3 separate regions of the Homo sapiens genome follow, and all the other regions are linked to region 1. The links come from fine-mapping of genetic effects on gene expression. A gene starts in region 1. Each other region holds a variant in brackets. All regions are shown on one strand. Distances are between the middles of the regions. Region 1 holds the start of GNA13 (G protein subunit alpha 13). Region 2 has its middle 51 kb from the start of LRRC37A3. Region 3 holds the start of LRRC37A3 (leucine rich repeat containing 37 member A3).

Region 1 (8,000 bases):
TTAGGAGTACATATGCAGGTTTGTTATACAGGTAAACTGCTCATCTCGAGTTTGGTGTACAGATTATTTAGTCACTCAGGTAATAAGTATAGTATGCGATATGTTTTTTGTTTTGTTTCGTTTTGTTTTGGTTTTTGAGACGGAGTTTCGCTCTTGCTGCCCAGGCTAGAGTGCAATGGCGTGATCTCGGCTCACTGCAACCTCCGCCTCCCAGGTTCAAACAATTCTCCTGTCTCAGCCTCCTGAGGAGCTGGGATTACAGGCGCGTGCCACCATGCCCGCCTAATTTTTGGTATTTTTAGTAGAGATGGGGTTTCATCATATTGGCCAGGCTGGTCTCAAACTCCTGACCTCAGGTGATCCGCCCGCCTCGGCCTCCGAAAAGTGCTGGGATTACAGGTGTGAACCACTGCACCCGACCAGGTATTTTTTTTTTAATCCTCTCCCTCCTCCTGCCTTCCACCCTCAAGTAGGTCCCAGTGTCTGTTGTTCCCCTCTTTGTGTCTTGTTTTTTAGAGATAGGGTCTCACTCTGTCACACAGACTTAGAGTTCAGTGGCATGATCATAGCTCACTGTAGCCTTGAGCTCCTGCATTTAAGCAATCTTCCTGCCTCAGCCTCCTGAGTAGCTAGAACTACAGCTATGTGCCACCACATCTGGCTATTTTTTTTTTTTTTTTTTTGAGACAGGGTCTGGCTCTGTTCCCCAGGCTGAAGTGCAGTGGTGCAATTTTGGCTCACTGCAGCCTCCGCTTCCTGGACTCAAGCGATTTTCCCACCTCAGCCTTCTGAGTAGCTAGGACCACAGGTGCACACCGCCTTCCCCTACTTTTTATATATTTTTTTGTAGACAGGGTTTCACCATGTTGCCCAGGCTGCTCTTAAACTCCTGGCTTAAGTGTTTGGATTACAGGCGTGAACCACTGCAGCCGGCTAATCTCTTGGCTACCATAAATGGTGCTGCCATGAACGTGGGTATACAAGTTTTTGTTTGAACACTGTTTTCAATTCTTTTTAGTATTTTGGGGGGTATACCCAGGATAAAATTACTGGGTCATATGGCAATTCTATGTTCACCTCTTTGAGAAACCACCAAGTCTCTAACTCATTTTTATGTTTACAATTTACAAGGTGTCTTGATCACCAGTTAGAAGAAGCTGGACAGCTGCAGCCAAACCCCTAGGTTGGACCCAAAGAGGTCTCTTTTTCTTTCTTTCATTCATTCATTCTTTTTCTTTTTTTTTTTTTTTGAGACAGAGAGTCTCACTCTGTCACCCATGCTGGAGTGCAGTGGCCTGATCTCGGCTCACTGCAACCTCCGCCTCCCACGTTCAAGCAATTCTCCTGCCTCAGCCTCCCGAGTAGCTGGGACTACAAGCGCCCACCACCACTCCCCACTAATTTTTGTATTTTTAGTAGAGATGAAGTTTCGCCATGTTGGCCAGGCTGGTCTCGAACTCCTGGGCTCAAGTCATCTGCCTGCATCAGCCTCCCAAAGTGCTGGGATTACAGGCATGAGCTACTGTGCCCGGCCTTCTTTTTCTTTCTTTCTTCCTTCCTCCTTCCTCCTTCTTCTTCTTCTTCCTTCATTTGACTTTCAGGTCAAAGAGGTCTCTTTTTAAAAACTACACTGACTAGAACAGCCAGACTTGATGTGAGCCAAGTTTGTTCCAAGGCAAGCTTACACGCAGGGCTTTAAACAGCTTTCTCTGCTGCTCTGCATGTCACGACATGAACTGGCTGGGCAGGAATACCTTCCTGCCTCCTAGGCATTCTTGGTTTTCCATTATATTACACACACTTCTGAAAAAAGATGTTAACTACCTAACTTACAAGTTTCTCTCCTCTTTGTTGGAGTTCAGATTAGCACCTGGGGTCAATGCAGAAACAGTGCTCGGGGACAGGTTCTATGCCCCAATCCTGGGAGAGGCGAGTCCTTGCATGGTTAGAGAACAGGGCCTCCCAAACACTAGATGAGATGATGGAAAAATTCTCCATCCAGGGCAGGCTTTTACCATATATTTTGCCTGACAGCACTGCTCAGTGATTCTGACTCTTATCAATCCACAGATATTGGAGGTGAGCCTACTCTACTTGTATATTGTAGGTTGTCCACCCTCTGGGCTTGCCAGAGCCACAGGAGATAATCCTACTACAGGCATTGTTTACTGCAGCCAATCTACTGAGTCGAGGCTTCTCGGTCATTAACCCAACCCCAGGGAGTAACTGATTAGTACCGATTTTAAAATTTAAACCTGTTCGGGAGTTTCTTGGAATGCTGACCTCTTACCTCCGCTCCCTTATACATACGAAGTTTCTGAGCCACAGGAGCCCAAAGCTACGTTGCATTGCCCAAAACAGGGACAGACCAAAGTGGCTTTTTCCACTTGAAACTAAATACTAAGAATGAAGAGGTCGGCTCTCGGGGGTCCCGGTTAAGCAGTTTCTCTGCCAACCCACAGCTGTCACTTGTGGCTTGTCTCCTGGCCTCCTTTCAGGTGTCCTGGCCTGAATCTGCTGTTAGGACAGAAAAAAAGTCCCTGGACGGGTCATATCCTCTGTAATCTGGCAGGAAAGCTAAAATTTGCGTGCTCCCATTCCTCGTTGTGTTTGTGTATCTGCTTCCTTGTTGGGAAGAGCCTACATCACAGTGTCCGGTGTAGGGGATTTTCACCATGACCTCACCCTCCTGCTGCCACTCGCTAATTCCGGCGCGGCCAAGCGTCCCTGAAGTCACATCACAGCCCAGGTGGAATGCACGAGTGAGCCATTAAATGCCCCTGGTAGCACGTCTCAAGTGAACATCAACTCCAGTTCTTTCCCCTCACAGAGAGCCCTGGTAGGGGTCTGAAAATGCCAGAAAGAGCTGGAAGTGGGGGTGGACGACGTCTGGTTACCGTTCTGGGATTCGGAGACTAGAAGGTCAAGGGAGTCACTTTAAGAAAACACACCAGGCCTGGGCCTGGTGGCTCTGTCTGGAATCCCCGCACTGTGGGAGGCCGAGGCTAGAGGATCGCTTGAGCTCAGGAGTTCGAGACCAGCCTGGGCAACATAGGGGGGAGCCCCTGTATCTAAAAATAAATACAAAAAATTTAGCCGGGTATGATGGCACACGCCTGTACTCCCAGCTACTCGGGAGGCTGAGGCGGAAGGATGGCTTGAACCTGGGAGGCGGAGGTTGCAGTGAGTCGAGATCGAGCCAATGCACTCCAGCCTGGGCGACAGGGTGAGACTCCGTCTCAAAAGAGAAAAAATAAAATGAAATAAAGAAAATGCACCAAAGGCCTGCCAGGCTCACGCCGGCTGTTCTGTTCGAATAACTTTCGAGTCCGTGGCCTCGAAATGGGTCGGGTGGGCGGTGACAGCGGGCAGCGGGCGCGCAACGCGGGAGAAAGGGAGGCTAAGTGGGAGCCCAAAGAACCGCGTCCGGGACCTGGTCTCCGGCCTCCCGGCCTTGGGGAAGGAGCCCTTCTGCCCACAAGTGGGCTCAGGCCATGAAAGGGAAACAGAAAGTCGGGCTCCCCAGCCTGGCCCACGTGACCGCGGTTCCTCAGCCCTCCCCGCGCGCCCGGCCGCGGCTGCGGGCGCGGGCACCCGAGCGACACATCGAGCTCGTGACTCGCCGCCCAGGGCGGGAGGCGGAGAAGCGGCCGCGGCGTGCGAGCGCGCCTCCGGGAGGCAGCGGGAGCGCGCACGCTCCGGGGCCACCGCCCCTCCGGGGCCGGGCCCGCCCTCCTTCCCTCCCTCCCTCCCCCGCTGTCCTGGCCCGCCCTGCCCGGCCCGCCCTGCGAGTCAGTTCGCTGGTTCCCTCCCTCCCTGGGCGCGCTCGGGCCGCCGCCGCGCTCCCCGCCCTCGAGCCTCGGTGCCGGAGCCGCCCGCCGCCGGAGGAGGAGGTGGAGGGAGCCGGAGGGGCCCGCCGAGGCGGCGGCGGCGGCGGCAAGATGGCGGACTTCCTGCCGTCGCGGTCCGTGCTGTCCGTGTGCTTCCCCGGCTGCCTGCTGACGAGTGGCGAGGCCGAGCAGCAACGCAAGTCCAAGGAGATCGACAAATGCCTGTCTCGGGAAAAGACCTATGTGAAGCGGCTGGTGAAGATCCTGCTGCTGGGCGCGGGCGAGAGCGGCAAGTCCACCTTCCTGAAGCAGATGCGGATCATCCACGGGCAGGACTTCGACCAGCGCGCGCGCGAGGAGTTCCGCCCCACCATCTACAGCAACGTGATCAAAGGTGCCGGGCCGGGAATGGGGGCCGGGGGTTAAGGGCAGGGGGGCTGGGGCGGCGGCGGGTGCGGGGCGGGGCACCGCCCTGGTCCGCTGTGTCGCTGGCGAAGGAACGGGCCCGGCGGGCGGGCTGGCGGGAAGGGGGCGCGCCCCGGCAACTGGCCCTGCCCGCCCGGGGTGCCCTCGCGCCCCAGGGCGAGAGGATGCTCGGGGTCGCCCTGCTCTCCCGCTTGTCTCCCCGGTGGGCGTCACGGCCATTCCCCCACCCCCCACCGCGTCCTGGTCTCTCCCCCTGCGAGAGGGAAGTGGGGCGAGCTGGGTGCTGCCTCGGGGTGTGGGCAGACCTCTCCTGTCCTCCCCGCTGCGGATGAGGCAGGAACACCAATAGCAGCCCTAGCCGCTTCACCCCCATCCCCTGCTCGGGCGATGTGGGCCGAACCTCGCTACCCTGGCTGGGTGACCCGAGTCACATGGGGTCGCATGCGCTCCCAACTCCCTGCTTCCTTGGCCGTCTCCTAAGCAAGCGAGTTCTGGAACCGTCGCAATAAGGGAACTTTTTGCCCGAGACTTCTTGTCAAGGGCGTAGGGTGACAGCCTCCTTTTGGGCGAGAATATGAAACTTGAGGAGTGTCAGGTTGACTGTACTGGAATCAGGAGAGAGTGGACCCATACAGTTAGCATGAAAATGTAGCATCTGTGCTTTTTCGCCCCAGTGTCACGGTCAGGTAGGATGTTTGCGTGTGATTTCTGTGCAACACGTTCCACTCTCCTTTTCGCTAAGTAACTGGGGGCTGGCAGGAAGGGAGTACCACTGCTTCTATTTAGATGAAATGTAGTAGTAAGAAGACTGGCCTAAAAGTCATGTGGATCCTGTACAGATGGAGACAATGAATGAGTGTTGAGTTAGATAATTGGCTCGGCTCTTTATTGACAGTAGTTTTAAAATTAAACTTTGTTCTTAAGTGAAAAATAAACAAGTTGTTTATTTCTGGGCATTCAAAGAAATCGAAAAGATGGTTTTTATTTTGTCATTTGAAAGATAATTAACACTCGTTTCTGCGTGTCAAGTATGTTCTATAGAAAAGGCATTTTGGCAAAATTTAGGTGCAGCGCCTGGTAACTCAGGTGCATCTGGATTTTATTTTATCTGGGGAGCAGTTTAGGAGTTTGCTACAGATTGCAGGTCTTTTTAAGTGGGATTTTTGTTCAGGAAGTACATAAGGGACTTCTGCATGTCACCCCCCCGCCCCCTCCCCGCCAACCGCCTCCCGAGCTTCCAGCGTTTGGGTAAAGGAAAACTGCCTGAAGAGCCAGGCATTATGGAGTAATGAATTAGAGAGAATCACTAGACCACAGCCAGCTCTAGCCCTAGTACCTCTGCAGTTAAACTATAAAGAACAGTTGTATTTATCCTGCTGTAATGTTTAGCTCAAAACTAATTAAGGTCTCTTTCAAGGCTGCAGACTCTGCCTTGACAGTCCTTAATTGAAGGTACCTTTGTAACCTGATGCAGCTGAACTTAAGGAATTATGTTAATGAATAGCATCAACATGTTAACTGACTGTGAGCCTGGTAAACACCTCGTTCTTAATGTACACTGAGTTGTAAGTGTGATCTACGTTGAGCATTGATTATGAGATGATGTAAGTCATCAGGAATCTAGTTTTTTCAAGTTGACATGAAATTTGACAGTAGAACAGTTTCTCAGGCTGGGCGTGGTGGCTCACTCCTGCAATCCCAGCACTTTGGGAGGCCAAAGTGGGAGGATGGCTTGAGCCCAGGAGTTCCAGACCAGCTGGGCTACATAGCCAGACCTCGTCTCTATTAAAAAACAAAAACAAAAAAACCCCACCCGTTTTTCAGTTATTCAGATGACTTCCTAATAGCCAAGTGACTGTTCAGATTGATCAAACTTAATAAAAGTAATAGATCAGTGATAGGAAAAATGAGTTTCAACTAACCTCTGTGAGTTGGAGTCCGACTTTGTATTATTTTGCAGTTGATCTTCCTCCCTTTTAGGGAAATTGAAGGCCATCCTGTAACTTAAACTGGATTGAAACTTGGGCTGGAAGAAGTTTTTAAATTTTGAATGTGTTGCTAGAAGACTCAATGTTGGGTTAGGGTGCCGAAGCAACAAACAGAACATGGAGCTATAGTAGTTGGTTCTTAGTGTTTCATAAATGAACATCTTTTAGGCTCATAAAACCTTGGTTGTGTCTGTTTTCTTCTGAGCTTGGACATTGTTGGTCTGTGCAGCATAACTTCTTTTTCTTTCTTGAGTTAGATTGTTTTTTGACTACCTTCTATCCTAGAAGTTATTTTATAAATTGGAACATGTTAAAAATCCTTCAGAGAGAGGAATTGTGCTAATAGTATTTGCTTTTCAAGGCTCTAATTTTAAGACAGTGAGCAACTGTTATTTTTTTTAACCTCTGAGAAGTTACATTTGTTTTCGATGTTGGTCTTCATTTTTGAAGAAGGTTTGTCTAGGTTAATTCAGAAGTATAAGGAAATAATACTGGAATAAAAACTTATGATAATATGTAATGACTCCTCTCCATACATTTTTTTTCTTCTTTTTAAACAAAGGTATGAGGGTGCTGGTTGATGCTCGAGAGAAGCTTCATATTCCCTGGGGAGACAACTCAAACCAACAACATGGAGATAAGATGATGTCGTTTGATACCCGGGCCCCCATGGCAGCCCAAGGAATGGTGGAAACAAGGGTTTTCTTACAATATCTTCCTGCTATAAGAGCATTATGGGCAGACAGCGGCATACAGAATGCCTATGACCGGCGTCGAGAATTTCAACTGGTAAGAGATTTGCTCTTTTAAAACGTGTGGTTTTATTTTAATGATGTTTAGTAATACAGGTTGCACATCCCTAATGCGAAAATTCGAAATGTTCCCAAATCTAAAAGTATTTGAGATGGAGGAACAGACTGAAAGGCTAAGGCACAGACCTAATGTGTCCTAGTCTCTAATGACTACGTGTAAAAATAGTGTATAAAATTACCTTTAGGCTACATATCTTAAGGTATATATGAAACATAAATGAATTTCTAGTTTAGACTTGAGTCCCATTCCCAGCATATCTCATATGTATGCAGATATTTCAAAAATCTGAAAAAATTCAAAATCCAAAACACTTCTGGTCCCAGGCATTCGGATAAGGGACACTCAACCTGTATCTGATTTTAGCACACTTTTTTCACTGACTTCCATAATTTAATGTATCTATCCAAAATTATAGCCTCAGAAATTTGTTTTTTTGTTTTTGGGGGGTTTGTTTTGAGACGGAGTCTCTGTTGCCCAGGCTGGAGTGCAGTGGTGTGATCTTGGCCCACTGCAACCTCTGCCCCCAGGGTTCAAGCAACTCTCCTGCCTCAGCCTCCTGTGTAGCTGGGTCTATAGGCGCGTGCCACCACACCTAGCTAATTTTTGTCTTTTTAGTAGAGGCAGTTTCGCCATGTTGGCCAGGCTGATCTTGAACTCCTGACCTCAGGTAATGTGCCCACTTTGACCTCCCAAATTGCTGGCATTGTGCCAGGCATTTTTCCCCTTTTTTCTTTAACGAGACTACCCATAAAATGCTTTGTAGCTGTTACACAGCATTGAAGACAGGTTTGGAATAAAAGTATCCAATCCAGGTTAAAGATACAGAATACAGTTGAAACAAATTTTTAATCAAGTGTTTTGTAATTTAACTGTGAATGCTGTGATTGGGTTTTATTTGCCAAAGATCAGAAAGATTCCAGCAGTGATAGAAATCTAGACTGTG
Region 2 (8,272 bases), 86 kb after region 1:
CCAGGCCCAGACATGTCTGTCCTTGTGAGATAAAAGCTTCCATGGGAGCCTTCCTTCCTAATCAAGGTAGGTAGACCACTGGAAGGTACATCTGGTTTTATATTTTGTCCTGTAGAAGTCAGATTTCAGCCCAGTTGTGTAGGAGTGAGGATGAGCTTATGCTCTTATCAGAGCTTTGAGTACAGAGACATTTGATCTGGAATTTCAGCCAGCCTCTTCAACCCCAGAATTCAGAGGTTCAATCAGAACAGACATTAGCTTAAGTTTTCCCATCAGTTGTCTATCATTAAACTGGCAAAATCTAGATAATTAGAAAATATGACAGAGATGATCCAGACAGAGATGTTCAGGTTTTTCCTTGTGTAATTCAAAAAGTCTCGTGGTGGAACATCTGACCCTTTTCAAGAGGAAGGATGAAAACTCTACATAGGAACACGATGTGAATGGAAGAAACCTGTCATTGTGAGTCTGGCTTTTGATTAGTCATCTGATGTCTTCCCTAATGTGATGTGACTAAGCCGTAGCTTCTCAGCCTGCAGTTAAATTGCAGAAATGATAGGGCTTACATTAGTTTTGTTTTTATTTGATGTTGAAGATCTTTGAGTCACACTAGAAACGAGGAGTATTTTTCATGTGGCACTAATGAGTTAATTCATAATATGATTTTTTGAGACAAAGTCTCTGTTGCCCAGGCTGGAGTGCAGTGGCACGATCACAGCCCACTGCAGCCTCGACCTCCTGGGCTCAGATGATCCTCCCACCTTAGCCTCCCAAGTAGCTGGGACTACAAGTGCACACCACCATGCCCGGCTAATTTTTTTGTAGATATGGGGTTTTGCCATGATGCCCAGGCTGATCTCAAACTCCTAGGCTCAAGTAATCCTTCTGCCTTGGCTTCCCAAAGTGCTGGGATTATAAGCATGAGCCACCATGCCAGGCCAATATTATTCCCCAAAAGAAGGAAATTGGGTGTGAGGTCCTGCTCCTATGGTCACCATGAGATTTTTTTGTTTGTTTTGGACTCTTGCCCAGGCTGGAGTGCAGTGGCACGATCATGGCTCACTGCAACCTCAGCCTCCCTGGTAGCTAGGACCACAGGTGTGCACCACTATGCCCAGGGAATTTTTAAGTTTTTTGTAGAGACAGGGTCTCACCATGTTGCCCAAGCTGTTCTCAAACTCCTGGCCTCAAGCAGTCCTCCTATCCCAAAGTGCTGAAATTACAGGCATGAGCCACCACGCCTGGCCACCACTAGTTTTTGTAATGGGAGCAGGTTCCATATGAGATGGAGGAATGGATTTCATGATTGTCTTTGTAATTTCTTAGGTCCCCAAGAAATTGATTGGACATGAGGAAACCACTCTAAGTGTGACCACTCTAAAGCATTAGCAGTCAGTCATTTCACTCTAGGGAGAAATCAGAGCTGTATATGGAGAATAGGTAAAGTCCCCAATATGGATATGTATTTTTATATTTGACTGCTTGTATTTTTTTGTTAGATGCAAATAGTACGGTATTCCGAACAGACACTAAAAATAGCTGTCATCTCAAAGAATCCAGTGCTTGTGTCACAGTATGAGAAAGTAGATGCTGGGGAACAGCGTTTAATGAATGAAGCATTCCAGCCAGCCAGTGATCTCTTTGGACCTTGCATTCTCCATCAGATTGGATCACCTCCCACCCTGAGGCCCCCCAAGACTTTGAACAGTTCTTCAGTCATCCTTACAGAAAGATACCCTCTCCAGACAAACGCAGTATTTATATACGGTCCATTGGTAAATACTGGTAATGTGCTAGTTTTGGTTCGGTTTTGCAATGGTTCTGTTGTCAGGAATAGTCCGGGCTATTGGTCTGATTCAGATGGGCCATTTTAGGATCATTTTTGATATTCATTGCAATGGTACAAGTTTTGTAGCCAAACAGACCTAGAACATTTTTTTTTAATTCATATCAACACCGATGAATGTTAAAGGTGTATTGAAAATTTAGAGTTGGTTTTGTTTCTAATTTGAATCCTCTTACTCATAGACTGGGTAAACACTGAATAATCGTCTTAAAGTCTGTTTTTAAATGTTCTTCCATATTATAGGATCTCTATGAAGCACCAGAATTATCAGTGAAGAATATATTAAATGGCTCACGGGCTACTGTAAAGCATATTTCTATCGCTTGAGAGTAAAACTGCTAGAACCAGTTCCTGTTTCTACAACAAGGTGTTCCTTTAGAGTCAATGAGAACACACAAAACCTACAAATTCATGCAGGTGAATTACACAACTTTGCAATTTGAACTGAGTAAAGGAAGCATATGTATATAATATACACTCATACATTTATGTATTTCTTCTTAAATAGGGGACATCCTGAAGTTCTTGAAAAAGAAGAAACCTGAAGATGCCTTCTGTGTTGTGGGAATAACAATGATTGATCTTTACCCAAGAGACTTGTGGAATTTTGTCTTTGGACAGGCCTCTTTGACAGATGGTATTCCGTTTTTGGCATTGTTGTTAGAAGCTTCTTCAACTTGAGAATATTTGAAGATGTTAAAAGAGGGAAAAAAATTCCAACCAAGAATCATATTGATATTTAAAACTATAGTATTTTCAGTTGAGACATTATGCCATAATGGGAAGTGTGCTGTTGGTAGATTGTGATAATCTAGGTTCTGGTTGGCCACTCACTACCTACAGGACCTTAAAGGTAACAATACCCACATCATGGAGTCATTTGGAGATAATTTACATAAAAGTGCCTGTACATAAAAAGTGTGGATAAGCCTGGACAACATAGTGAGACTACATGTCTACAAAAAATAAAAATTAAAAAAACTAAATTAGCTGGGCATGGTGGCACACACCTGTAGTCCTAGCTATGCAGGAGGCTGAGGCGAGAGGATTGCTTGAGCCCAGGAGGTTGAGGCTGCAGTGAGCCGTGATCGCACCACTGTACTCCAGCCTGGGCAATAAATTGAGACCGTGTCTCAAAAAAAAAAAAGCATATATAGGCCTGGCACATATATAGGCATTCAGCATAACAGCTAGTAAACGTCAGTAATTCAGTAGCAAGGTGAATTAAGCCAATTACAGTTTGAGCTATCATTAATGGATGTGAAAATCTTGCTAATTGTTTTTCAATTCTTTTCATAGTCATCTTGCACAGTTAGGATAGCCATAGACTAAGTGTTGCTTCTTTCTCATCATACGACATTTGTTTTTTGTTTGTTTTTTAATTTAAAAAGTAAAAACTTCCATCTTTGATTTGAGATACATAGTAAACATTGACTCATTAGGAACTCTGCATGGTAATATTGGGGATGGGAAAGGTTCACGAAACAGGTTATATTTTTAACCTTTTTTTGTCATCTCTCTACTTCTCCCCTCCCCTTCATTTTTGCTCTTACTTCTCTAACTTCATCCCCAATAATCCAAGACAGACTTGAAAGGGAAAAGGCCCCCTAAGGGGAGTGGTTCATTAGTGTTCTGGGGATGGGGAGTAAGTACAGGGACTATCCTGAGAGTTTATGGTCTGTCTGGATGTTACATTAGCCTTAGGATTTGTGTGGGGTGGTAAGCTTTTTGGGACAAATGTTTCTACTAGAGGTGGGGGCTGTAGGGCTATAGAGCCTCTTCCCACTTACTCGTTTATTCTTTATTCTCCATTTATGTGAGGTTTACTTGTGGCCCCCCATGGCCCTACCAACATGCAGTCTTGGAGACGTGGGTCACTACTCTCTTACTGATTTTGGTGGTGTGAGGTAGCTTTTTATCATAAGTTTTCTCTCTTATTATTAACCTGATAGAGACGGAAACATTAAAAATTAATTTTATCTACCTTTCATTTTTCTTTTGATACAGGGTCTCCCTCTATCAC[C/T]CAGGCTGATCATGGGTCACTGCAACCTCAGCCTCCTGGGCTGAAGGGATCCTCCTGCCTCGCCTCAGCCTCCTGAGTAGCTGGGACCACAGGACCACCACACCCAGCTATTTTATTTTATTTTTTTTGTCGAGATGGGATCTCCCTGTGTTGCTCAAGCTCATCTTGAATTCCTGGGCTCAAGCGAGCCTCCCACCTCAGCCTCCCAAAGTGCTTTGATAAAAGGTGTGAGTCACCACACCCAGCTAAAAAAATAATTTTCAAACCATATGTTCGTTTATCTAGATATTACTAGCTAACTTATCTTATGTATTTGAGGAGGTCAGGAAACATTTCCCCAAACTGTTTTTACTTTAATTCTTTTTTTTGTAAGTTTCTTAAATATTACATGACATGAAAGATTTACATAGGAAAGTGGCAGGATTAGACAGTGACAATATCTTAACACAGTGGTCTTGTTTTCTCCAAGTTTACAAAGATTCATATTTTTAAATTGAGAAGCATTGACTACGAAAGAAAATAATCTTCTATTTGTAGGATTATTGGAAGAAAGAAATGTCCTTGCTGAAAGTATTACTGTAGTGAAATATGCTCACACTTGATTGGCCAGAGGGGGTTACTTGTGATACATGAATAGATTTAGTGTTTTCTTAACTTCTAGAATGCTATTTTCCCTAATTTTCGAATATCAGTCCACATTTTCTGGGTAAAGGGAGGTGAGGAAGTTGTTTTTGAATCAAATTAGATTGAACAAACCTACCATGGGTTATTTTCTTTAAAAATTTATTACTTTAAAATAAAAACTGAACGAGAGACATAAATAAAAGTGATCATGTAAACAAGTCGAATTGTGAAGCAGTACCCTGTAGGGTGAGTTACGTAGCAAACCGTGTTCTCTGTGCTTGCAGAGATGGTTGATATAACTCTAAATGTAACACAGGAAGTCAGTTACAAGGGTATTTATTCTGGTCACCAGACACTAGTGACAGAATAGAGTTGAGCTGCTCTTTAAAAAGGGGGTGGGGGTGGGGAAGGGGACGAGGTTATTCTGTCTAAAGCCGTGGTTTAAAGCATGGGCTTCAAGACATCAGGGCAGTTGTCCTCAGTCAGTGCTGCGTGAGGGAAGGCCAGCAACCCCTCCAGGCACACGTGTAACAGATCTGTTTAGCGTGTCCTTAAAGAGTGAAATCATGACTGCCTATTGTTGATGTGATTTATTTTATTTTATTTGTTTATTTATTTATTTATTTATTGAGATGGAGTCTCGCTCTGTCGCCAGGCTGGAGTGCAATGGCGGGATCTCGGCTCACTGCAACTCCGCCTCCCGGGTTCAAGCCATTTTCCTGCCTCAACCTCCTGAGTAGCTGGGATTATAGGCGCCTACCATCATGCCTGGCAAATTTTTGTATTTTTGTAGAGACAGGATTTCACCATGTTAGCCAGGCTGGTCTTGAACTCCTGACCTCAGGTGATCCGCCCACCTTGGCCTCCCAAAGTGCTGGGATTGCAGGCATGAGCCACCATGCCTGACCCATGTGATTAGTTTTTGTGGTTCCTTTTTGAGTACTTGATTTGGAGTACTTGCTACTTTCAGAAAAAGACTTCTTTTGTGGGAAAAGACTCTGAAACTTCAGTTTCTCAAGTATTTGACCTCCAGCCCATTAAGTTTTACAAGACAAGGCATGGTGGATAGCAGCAAAGGATTTTGATAGGGAAATCTGGGGCTTCTTCCACTTGGAAGAAGCTGACCGGCGCCCTCTAAACCTTTGCCCTATCTGTTTGCACAAGTTGCAGTGTGCTGTTATTGGCTTCAGCATTGTAGAAAGATATAAAGTAAGTTGAGGGATGGATAGTGTAAAGAGGGGGAAGTGGTTATCTGAGTAGCAAACTGATGTATCTATTATATCCTTCTCTAGAGTTATAATTTATCAGAGGAAATTAGTGTAAAGATAAGCAGGAAGCTGTGGTTTAAAAACATGCGAAGAAATGCCCTTCTTAAAAACTTCAGCTTGCCTTAGAGTGATTTATGCTTACAGTTCAATGAGAAATAGTGGAAGAAATTTTCTGCTTCTCTTCCATTTAGGGCAAGAGAGCTTGACTTTGCAAAACTGAATAAATATTGATATGTGTGGCAAAGTTCATTTTTTAAACCCTATAAGTGTGAGGACAGGATTTATCTTTCCAAATATGGGACAGAGGTATGATGTTCATTAGGAGGAAAAAAGTGATTTTCTTTAAAAAGGAAGAAGGAAAGTACCTAATCTCAGTATGTGTGTGTGTGCCCACACTTGCCCACAAACATCAATATACATTCATGTGTTTACTCATGGGTATGACTGCATTCAGGTGACTGCACAGAAATGTCTACACATGTGTTTTCACATACATATGTCTACCCATGCCTGTGTGGACACTTATATATGTATATACATACATGTCAAATTAATATAATGCCTTGTAGAATATTCAGCAAGTTGAGAAAAAATATCCTATCATGCTAGAAACAAAGTATAAGAATGAGTGTATTTCTTTTTCATCTTTTTTCAGTGCGTACTTTTGACATCATTTGTAATTCTGTGTGTATTTGGTACGTGCCATTTCACTCAGTATATCATTAGCATTATTCATATTCACAGCATCATTATCAAATGCAGCGTCTTCATGGGGTAATATGTCACCCTATGATCTAGAAGCCAATGCTTCTCTCTTGCCTGATGGTATTTTGCTGTGGTTTGTTGAAGTGCGCATCTTTCAATGCTTTTCCAGGCACTGGTGAGGTGGATTGATGATGAATCTTCTGGCACACCTGGAGCAACTCCAGAACACAGTCGTGAGGATAATGGGAATTTACTGAAACCCGTGGAAGGAAGCCTTTAAGGAATGGAAAGAGTGGATAATAAAATGCCTGACTGTTCTCCAAAAATAAGGACCTTCAAATAGGAGTGATTGAAATAAATGACTACTTGCATGTTATGCTTTCATTTGGGTGGAATACTTCATCAGAATAAACTATTGATCTTGTGCTGTGTCAAAGTAACAGACTAGAACCTTCTTTCAAGTACCTGAATTGAAATGAAACTCATTTTGAATAATAAAAACTCTAGAAACTCTTTATCTTCTCATCTTACTGGCCTGGTCTGTGGCAGCAAGCACATTATTTCCATTCCCCAAATATGTTTAGGTCTCCCAAGAAAGCTGGGACTGGCGGTAATGAGCAAGTAAATAACTTGAAAAAGAACTGTAGATGCCCCAAGGAACCAACCAACATAATTTCCAGGGGGTGATTTTGTTTTTAGAAGAGCTGCTCCCCTCTGTTAGGGCCAGCCAAGTCACATTTTTGGACGTCCGTGGACTCTGATCACCACAGCCCTCCTCTTCCGTGAGCCTTCCTTACTCTCTCGAGTGCATTAGCTCATTTTTTTTCTTTTGCTGGTTGTCACCTTATTCCTGTTTTAGTTTTTAGCAGCTTAAAATACGACCTCTCAGGAATATTTGCAAGTGAAAATAACAATGGTCCTTACACTACCACAACATTTGGTGGTGGGAGTTCCGTTGCAGGTCTCAGCTATAACATAGTCATTTATGAGGGATCTTACAAATAGTGTGTAATGGTATTTATATTTGTGAGTGTTACACTTTCTCTATAGACTTAGAGCAGCTTTCAGGTTTATTTCAGTAATAATGTCTTTCTCACCTTCTCACATTGTGAAGTGTTTACCTGAGTCAGGGAGAGAGTTTAATGGGGTTATCTGTCGGGGTGCCATGAATGCTGATGATGGTCTGCAGGTTGTGAACATCAGCCCCATTGCTACAGGGGTGGACAGGTGGAAAAGCTCAGACTTGACAAACCACCTCTGCTAGATAGATGTGTCTTGGAAATCCAGAAATTACAGTGAATATTTTATGGAATGCCAGTGAGCAGACAGCATTTCCCACTTTCCTATCTTACCTTGAGGGTAAGACTTAAAGGTATTTTTTTTTCTTGTAATTTGAAGCCTAAATTCTTTGATTGTTTGATGTATGCAATATGATGTAAGGCACATTTTATACCCCTAGTCAGTGGTTTCCCTTGGATTCATTCTCCTACTTGATTGAACCCATTTAAGTCATTTTAGGAAATGGTGGTTTGCTATTAAAATTAATTGGAGAGAATACTTGGTCATTCTGTTAGCAAAAAGAGACTGATGGAGCATGGTGTTTTATGGATTCTGTTACAGGGCTTATTCCTCCTTGAATAATGTGCTTTAAAAATTATTGTCCATTCGATTACATTTTCTTTTATTTTCCTACAATGTAAGCACGGTTTTAGTCCTGTAGGTCAGCCTTTCTCACAAACTCTTTTGAACTAAGATTTGCCTAGGTGAATAAATTGGGGATGACGGTTGTCTGGAGAAGATATAAGG
Region 3 (8,272 bases), 140 kb after region 1:
GACTGAGGTGGGTGGATTACTTGAGGTCAGGAGTTGGAGGCCAGCCTGACCAACATGGTGAAACACCGTCTGCACTAAAAGTACAAAAAATTATCCAGGCATGGTGGCACACGCCTGTAATCTCAGCAACTCGGGAGGCTGAGTCATGAGAATCGCTTGAACCTAGGAGGCAGGCTCAATGTTTATCTTGTAACTGACTATGTTACTGAATTATAATTTTTTTTTTGAGACCTAGTCTCATTCTGTCACCCAGGCTGGAGTGCAGTGGCGTTATCTTAGTTCATTGCAACCTCTGCCTCCCAGGTTCAAGCGATTCTCGGGCCTCAGCATCCCGAGTAGCTGGGATTACAGGCATGCACCACCACGTCCGGCTAATTTGTTTGCAATTGTAGAAAAGACAGGGTTTCACCATGTTGCCCAGACTGGTTTGAACTCCTGGCCTCAAGTGATCTGCCCGCCTCGGCCTCCAAAGTACTGGGATTAGAGGTGTGAGCCACTCAGTCCAGACAACATTTATTTCTTTATTCATTTCACCAGTTGGCATGGTTTCCAGACTTTTCTTGATTTATTTTATTTTATTTTTTGAGAAGGAGTCTCACTCTTGCAGCCCAGGCTGGAGTACAATGGCGCAATCTTGGCTCACTGCAACCTCCACCTCAGGGGTTCAAGCGATTCTTCTGCCTCAGCCTCCTCAGTAGCTAGGATTACAGGCACCCGCCACCATGCCCAGGTAATTTTTGTATTTTTAGTAGAATTTAGGAGTTTCCTAAATTCTGGGGGCTTGTCTCCCTGTTCCCCCACCCCGACTAATTTCCCTCGGTCGCTGGCGCTGCCCCGTCCCTTAGGTCGCTCGGGCCGCCCCACTCCGAGACTTTTTTTTTCTTTCGCTGGCTCTTTCAGCTTCAGTTTCCCTAGGGGGCGGGAGGGGAATATTTGGGGGCTCTCCTGCCTTCCTCTCCGAGCCGCGGAAGGGGAGACGCAGGGAGGAGGTCCGGCCGGCTTTGGGCTCCAGCCAGGGGTCCGCGGAGACTATGGTCTCCGAAGGCCTTAGCCGCGGGGCATTTCGCGAGCTGCGCGTCTCTCTCAACGGCGCCACCGCGCCCGGAGTCCAGCCGCGCCGCGCTGCGCCCAGCCCCGGCGCCCCAGGCTCTCCGCCCCCGACTCAATGCTCCCGCGCTCCCCCTAGCGGCCGCCGCGCCACCTCGCCCCGTCCCAGGCTCGTAGGCTGCTCAGCTCACGTGACCGCGCTCCGGTAACGGAAGAAACAAGATGGCGGCTGAAGGCGATCCGCAGTGAGGCCCCAGCCATTCGGATTGAGCCTTCTCCCTCCAACCGCTTCCGCAGGCCGGGCCCCTCCTGCCCTGCCCCTCTGGCCTCCCCACCCGGCCCCGGCCGCCCCCACTGCGCCCATTGCGCCCGCCCCTTCCCGGCCGCTTTCCCTTCTCCCTCCGCCTCGGTTCCAACATGAGGGGCCGGCGGGGCAGGCCGACCAAGCAGCCCGCGGCTCCCTCTGCGGAGCGCTGCGCCCCGGCCCCGCCGCCGCCGCCGCCGCCCACGTCCGGACCCATCCGGGGTTCCGCTCGCGGCACCGCGGCAGCAGCCGGGGCAGGTGGGCCGCCGCCCAGGCTGAGGTGGCGCCCAAGACGCGGCTGAGCTCGCCCAGGGGGGGCAGCAGTAGCCGGAGAAAGCCGCCGCCGCCGCCAGCCCCACCCCAGCACCAGCGCCCCGGCCGGGGGGAGGCGGGGGCAGCCACCTGGCCCGGACAGCTGCAGGTCCGGACGGCCGTCAACAAAGTGGTGTAGTCACTACAGGTGCTCGCTGCCACACCCAGCTAATTTTTTGTATTTTTTAGTAGAGATGGAGTTTCACCGTGTTGCCCAGGCTGGTGTCGAACTCCTGAGCTCAGGCGATCCGCCCGCCTCAGCTTCCCAAAGTGTTGGGATTATAGGCGTGAGCCACTGCACCTGGCACAGGTATATGTATGTATTTTTTACAAAATTGGATGAAGTATAATTTATTTGTTAAATATTTTCACTTATGCCATGATATCTTATTTAATCTTTAATTTGTCTATGAAAATACCTGCTCTGCTAGGGGGCTTCTAGTTGAAAACTCATTAATTTAAAAAATTAATTTTGAATTCAGCCACCTATTCTTTTTTCTAATTGTTTCTTGTAGCTTTTGCTTTGATTGGAATAACTTTATTCTAGGAATAAAGTTTTGTCATCTGCAAACATGAATCATGTACACATCTGATTTTCTTATATTTATGTCTCCTTTTTCTCTTCAAATTACATTGCCTTTACCATTGATGGGAACCTGGGTAATAAAGAAAAAAGAAAAAAATTGCATTCCCTACCACCTCCTCCAAAACAATGTCAAATGTTAGTTATAATGATAGGCATCTTAGTATGCTATCCCAATTTAATGGAACTGTTGCAGATATTTAATGGTTAACTGTTGGTTTGAGACCTTTAATGTGTTGAGTATATTCACCTATTTCAATTTTTTTTCTGTTTAAGTTTTTTTTTTTTAAATCAGATATGGCTATTATATTTTGTTAAATGACATCTTAGCATCTTTTAAGATGATCATATAGTTTTCCTCCTGCATGCTACATATTAATTACAGTAGTGTATATTCATAGAATTATATTAGTAGATCTTATATTGATTCACCCTTACATTCTTGCAGTGAACCTCTCTTGATCATATTATTTTTTCATGTACTGTTTGACTTTATTTATTTAGTTTTGAGACAGAGTTTCGCTCTTGTTGCCCAGGGTGGAGTGCAGTGGCGCGATCTCAGCTCACCACAACCTCCGCTTCCCAGGTTCAAGCGATTCTCCTGTCTCAGCCTCCTGAGTGGCTGGGATTACAGGCGCCCGCCACTACGCCTGGCGAATTTTTGGTATTTTCAGTAGAGACAGGGTTTCACCATGTTGGCCAGGCTGGTCTTGAACTCCTGACCTCAGGTAATCCGCCGGCCTCGGCCTCCCATAGTGCCGGGATTACAGGTGTGAGCCATCGCGCCCGGCCTGTTTGACTTTTAAATAGGTATTTTAATTTTTTAGTTTATACGTGTACAGTGCATAATGTATTTAAGATTCATCTGTGTTGTTGTATCAGTAGTTTCTTTATTGCTGAGTAGCAGTCCTTTATATGAGTGTATCACAGTGCATTTATCTGTTCAATAG[T/A]TGAATATTTCAATTATTTCTAGTTTGTGGCACCTATGAATAAAGCTGCCGTAAACATTTCCATAATGTTTTTTGTCTGAACACAATTCTTGTTTCTCTTGAGTAAATACCTAGGAGTATGATTTCTGGGTTGTATGTTTATAAGAAACTGCCAAAACTGTTTTCCAAAGTAGCTGTACCATTTTGCATTCTTACCTGCAAATGTATGAAGAGTTCCGGTTGCTCTGTATCCTCCCTAGCACTTGATATTTTCAGGTTTTTTTTTTTTTTTTTTTTTTTTTGAGATGGAGTCTGGCTCTGTTACCCAGGCTGGAGTGCAGTGGCGCGATCTCGGCTCACTGCAAGCTCCGCCTCCCGGGTTCATGCCATTCTCCTGCCTCAGCCTCCCGTGTAGCTGGGACTACAGGGGCCTACCACCACGCCCGGCTAATTTTTGTGTATATTTAGTAGAGACGGGGTTTCACCATGTTAGCGAGGATGGTCTCGATATCCTGACCTCGTGATCTGCCCGCCTCGGCCTCCCAAAGTGCTGGGATTACAGACGTGAGCCACTGCGCCCGGCCTCAAGTTTTTTTTTTTTTTTTGGCCACCTTAATAAGTATATGGTGGTAGCTTCTTCTGGTTTTAATTTCCTTGTCCCTAATGACTAATGGTTCTGAGCCTCTTTTTATGTGCATCTTTTGATTTGCCATCTGTATATCATTGTTTATGGAAAAATACTAAAGTCTTTTTTTTTTTTTTGAGACAGAGTCTTGCTCTGTTGCCCAGGCTGGAGAGCAGTGGCACAGTCACCACTCACTGCAGCCGCCACCTTCTGGGTTCAAGCCATCCTCCCACCTCTTGGCCTCCCAAGTAACTGGGATTGCAAGTGCGCACCACCACACCTGGCTAGTTTTTTTTTTTTTTTTTTTTTAATAGAGATGGGGTTTTGATATGTTGCCCAGACTGATTTCGAATCCTGGGCTCAAGCGATCTGCCTGCCTCGGCCTCCCAAAGTGCTGAGATTACAGGCATGAGCCACCATGCCTGGCCAAGATACCAAAATCTTTATTTAAGATGTTTAATTGGGTTGCTTTCTTTATTGTTATTCTTCTTTTATTTTATTTTATTTATTTATTTATTTGAGACGGAGTCTCGCTGTGTCGCCAGGCTGGAGTGCAGTGGCGCGATCTTGACTCACTGCAAGCTCCCCCTCCCGGGTTCACACCATTCTCCTGCCTCAGCCTCCCAAGTAGCTGGGACTACAGGCACCCGCCACCACGCCCAGCTAATTTTTTGTATTTTTAGTAGAGACGGGGTTTCACCATGTTAGCCAGGATGGTCTTGATCTCCTGACCTTGTGATCCTCCTGCCTCGGCCTCCCAGAGTGCTGGGATTACAGGCGTGAGCCACCACGCCAGGCTTCTTTTATTTTTTTAGACAGAGTCTCGTTCTTTCACCCACGCTGGAGTGCAGTGGCATGATCTTGGCTCACTGCAGCCTGTCATTCCCCTCGACCCCAGGTTCAAGGTGATCCTCCCACCACCTCAGCCTCTGAAGTAGTTAGGACCACAGATGCATGCCACCATGTGTGGCTAATTTTTGTATTTTTAATAGAGATGGGGTTTCGCTATGTTGCCCAGGCTGGTCTTGAACTCCTGAGCTCAAGCAATCTGCCTACCTTGGCCTCCCAAAGTGCTGGGATTACAGGCATGAGCCACCATGCCTGGCCAATTTCTTACTGTTGGGTAGTAAGAATTCTTTATATATTTTGGATATAAGTGCTTTGTTAGGCTGTGTGATGTTCATACATTTTCTCCCCATCTGTGCCTTGTGTTTCATTGTCTTAGCGGTGTCTCTTTCCCAGAGCATAAGTTTTAAATTTTGATGAAGTCTGATTTACCACATTTTTTCTTTTACACATTTGGTGTTCATCTAACAGCTCTACCTAACCCAGACCTTGCCAGACTTTTTCTGTAAAAGGTCAGATAGTAAATATTTCAGCCTTGCTGTCCCTGTTGCAGCTCTGCCATTGTAGCAATGAAAGCAGTCATAGACAATATGTAAATGAATGATAATAGCTGTTCCAATAAAACTTTATGAACACTGCAGTTTGAATTTCACATAATTTACAAATTATCAATTATATTGTTTTGATTATTAGAAAAACAGGTAGTGGATTGGCCATGGTTTGCTGATTCCTGGCCTGACAAACCCAAGTTCACAAAGATTTTCCTCTTTGATTTTGTTGTGGTCGTTGTTCCACACCTTTTTTCACTGTTTCCTTAAGGTAGAGTGTACATATTTATAAGGGTACATGCAATATTTTGATAGATTCATACAGTGTGTAATGATCAAATCAGGTTAATTAGGGTATCCATCATCTCAGATGTTTATCCTTTTTTTTGTATTGGGAAGATAACAAATGTTCTAGCTATTTTAAAATATACACTAAGTTATTGTTGACTCTAGTCACCCTACTGTGCAAATAAAAACTAAAACGTATTCCTTCTATCTGACTGAGTTTTTATGCCCATGAATCAACTTGTCTTCATCCCTACCTGCTTCCCAGCCCCCGGTAACCATCATTCTACTGCCTATCTCCATGAAATCAACTTCTTAATCTCTCATATATGAATGAGAATATGTGATACTTGTCTTTCTGCCCTTGGCCTATTTCACTTAACATAATGTCCTCCAGTTCTATCCATGTTGCTGCAAACAGATTTTATTTTCCAAACCTTAAGCTTTATAGATGACTTCACTTTTTAAATGGCTGAATAATATCCTCTTGTGCATGTATACCTCATTTTCTTTGATTTTTCTTTCTTTCTTTTTAAATAGAGATGAGTTCTCACTATACTGCCCAGGCTGGTCTTGAATTTTTTTGCTCAAGCAATCCTCCTGCCTTGGCCTCCCAAAGTGCTGGGATTCCAGGCTAAACCACTGTGCTCCTTTATGCGTTTTTTTGTTTTTGTTTTTGTTTTTAAAGACAAAATCTTGCTCTGTTGCCCAGGCTGGAGTGCAGTGGTGCGATCTTGGCTCACTGAAGCCTCCACCTCCCAGGTTGAAATTATTCTCGTGCCTCAGCCTCCCAAGTAGCTGGGATTACAGGCACCCACCACCACGCCCAGCTAATTTTTGTATTTTTAGTAGAGATGAGGTTTCACCATGTTGGCCAGGCTGGTCTCGAACTCCTGACCTCGGGTGATTCATCTGCCTTGGCCTCCCAAAGTGATGGGACTACAGGCATGAGCCACTGCGCCCAGCCCCTTTGTGCACTTTTAAAAACATATCTTAGAATTTGTGATACATGTTTTATTTTCATTTTCATTTGGTTCACAATATTGTAAAATTTCTACTATGACTTACTCTTTGACCCATGATTTGTTTTAAAACGTATTGTTTAATTTTCAAACATTTAGGGATTTCCCAGACATCTTTGTTGTTGGTTTCTAATTTAATTCCATTATGGTTAGGGAACATACTCGTTATGATGAATTAAAAAAAAATGTAGAGGTTTGTATATGGCCTGAAACATTGTTTGTTTAGGTCAATGTTCAGTTTGTAATAGGAAAGATGTGTTCTGCTGCCTTTAGGTAAAGTGTTTCATAAATAATAATTAGGTCAAGTTGGTTGATCGTGTTAAGGTCTTCCCTATCCTTGCTGATTTCCTGTCTGCTTGTTCTAGTGATTACTGAGAAAGGAGTGTTGAAGTCTGCAATGATTGTTATGGGTTTGTTCTCTTTCTCCTTAAAATTCTGTCTGTTTATGCTTCCTGTATTTTGAGGCACTGTTATTAGATGCAGAAACATTTACAGTTTTGTCCTCTTGATTATTTGACCCCTTTATCATTCTGAAATAACCTTTATTTCTGGTAATAATCATTATATTAAAAACCATTATTTGGCCAGACATGGTGGCTCATGCCTGTAATCCCAGCACTTTGGGAGGCCGAGGCGGGTGGATCACCTGAGGTCAGGAGTTCGAGTCCAGACCGGACAACATGGCGAAACCCCATCTCTACTAAAAAGAGAAAAATAGCCTAGTGTGGTGGCACACGTCTGTAGTCCCAGCTACTCAGAAGGTTGAGGCAAGATAATCACTTGAATCCGGGAGTTGGATATTGCAGTGAGCCGAGATCACGCCACTGCACCCCAGCCTGGGAAGCAGAGCAAGACTCCATTTCAAAAGAAAAAAAAAAAAAAAACCCAAAATAGGCCAGGTGCAGTGGCTCATGCCTGTAAACCCAGCACTTTGGAAGGCCGAGGCAGGTGAATCACCTGAGGTCGGGAGTTCGAGACCAGCCTGGCTAAGATGGTGAAACCCCGTCTCTACTAAAAATACAAAAATTAGCCAGGCACGGTGGCAGCTGCCTGTAATCCCAAGTACTTGGGAGGCTGAGGCCAGAGAATTGCTTGAAGCCGGGAGGCAGAGGTTGCAGTAAGCCAAGATCATGCCATTGCACTCTAGCCTGGGTAACAGAGCAAGACTCCATCTCGGGGGAAAAAAAAAAAAAATTACTTAATATTAATATAAAATTAGTGTTTTATATTAGTAGTATAATACTGTTTTTGACTAGTGTTAAAATGACATATCTTTCTCTACCCTTTTGCTTTTAATCTAGATATCATGATATTCATTTATTTTTTAATTTGTAAAAATAGAGATGGGGTTTTGCCATGTTGCCCAGGCTGGTCTTGAATTCCTGGGCTCAAGCCACCTGCCCACCTCAACCTCCCAAAACGCTGGGATTATAGGCGTGAGCCACCATACTTGGCCATATCATTATATTTTCAAATGGTTTCTTGTTTTTTCGTTTTTCTTTTAAATGTAATCTGACAGCGTCTTTTAATTAATGTGTTTTGGACCATTTACATTTAATATGATTGATGATGATTGGATTTAGGTTTCCTTTTTATTATTTGTTTTCTGGTTATTTCTTTTTTTGGGGGGTTTCTTCTGTTTCTTTTTTCTGCCTATTTTTGGATTAACTGAATATTTTTTAGTGTTATGTTTTATTAATTGGCTTTTGGTTATATCTGTGCTATGTTTTTGCTGTAGGAATTACAAAATATATACCTAACCTACCTACTT

What was found.
Region 2: its variant is fine-mapped to the expression of GNA13 in whole blood (TOPMed, PIP above 0.99).
Region 3: its variant is fine-mapped to the expression of GNA13 in whole blood (TOPMed, PIP above 0.99).

Annotation. Positions count from the first base shown.
Region 1 is chr17:65,052,535-65,060,534 of GRCh38, reverse strand. It overlaps GNA13 (G protein subunit alpha 13), which reads left to right and starts at 3,795. Exons shown (of 4, transcript NM_006572.6): 1 at 3,795-4,224; 2 at 6,807-7,033. The coding sequence starts at 3,942. RefSeq lists silencers at 3,508-4,017, 4,298-4,557.
Region 2 is chr17:64,966,745-64,975,016 of GRCh38, reverse strand. It overlaps the pseudogene AMZ2P1. Among named protein-coding and RNA genes, the nearest start is that of LRRC37A3, 51 kb to the right of the region's middle. RefSeq lists a silencer at 312-606. The variant C/T (reference allele first, on the strand shown) is at 3,870.
Region 3 is chr17:64,912,451-64,920,722 of GRCh38, reverse strand. It overlaps LRRC37A3 (leucine rich repeat containing 37 member A3), which reads left to right and starts at 1,245. Exons shown (of 15, transcript NM_199340.5): 1 at 1,245-1,292; 2 at 1,853-1,973. RefSeq lists enhancers at 1-342, 343-844, 920-1,420 and silencers at 1,036-1,255, 1,356-1,445, 1,516-1,895. The variant T/A (reference allele first, on the strand shown) is at 3,197.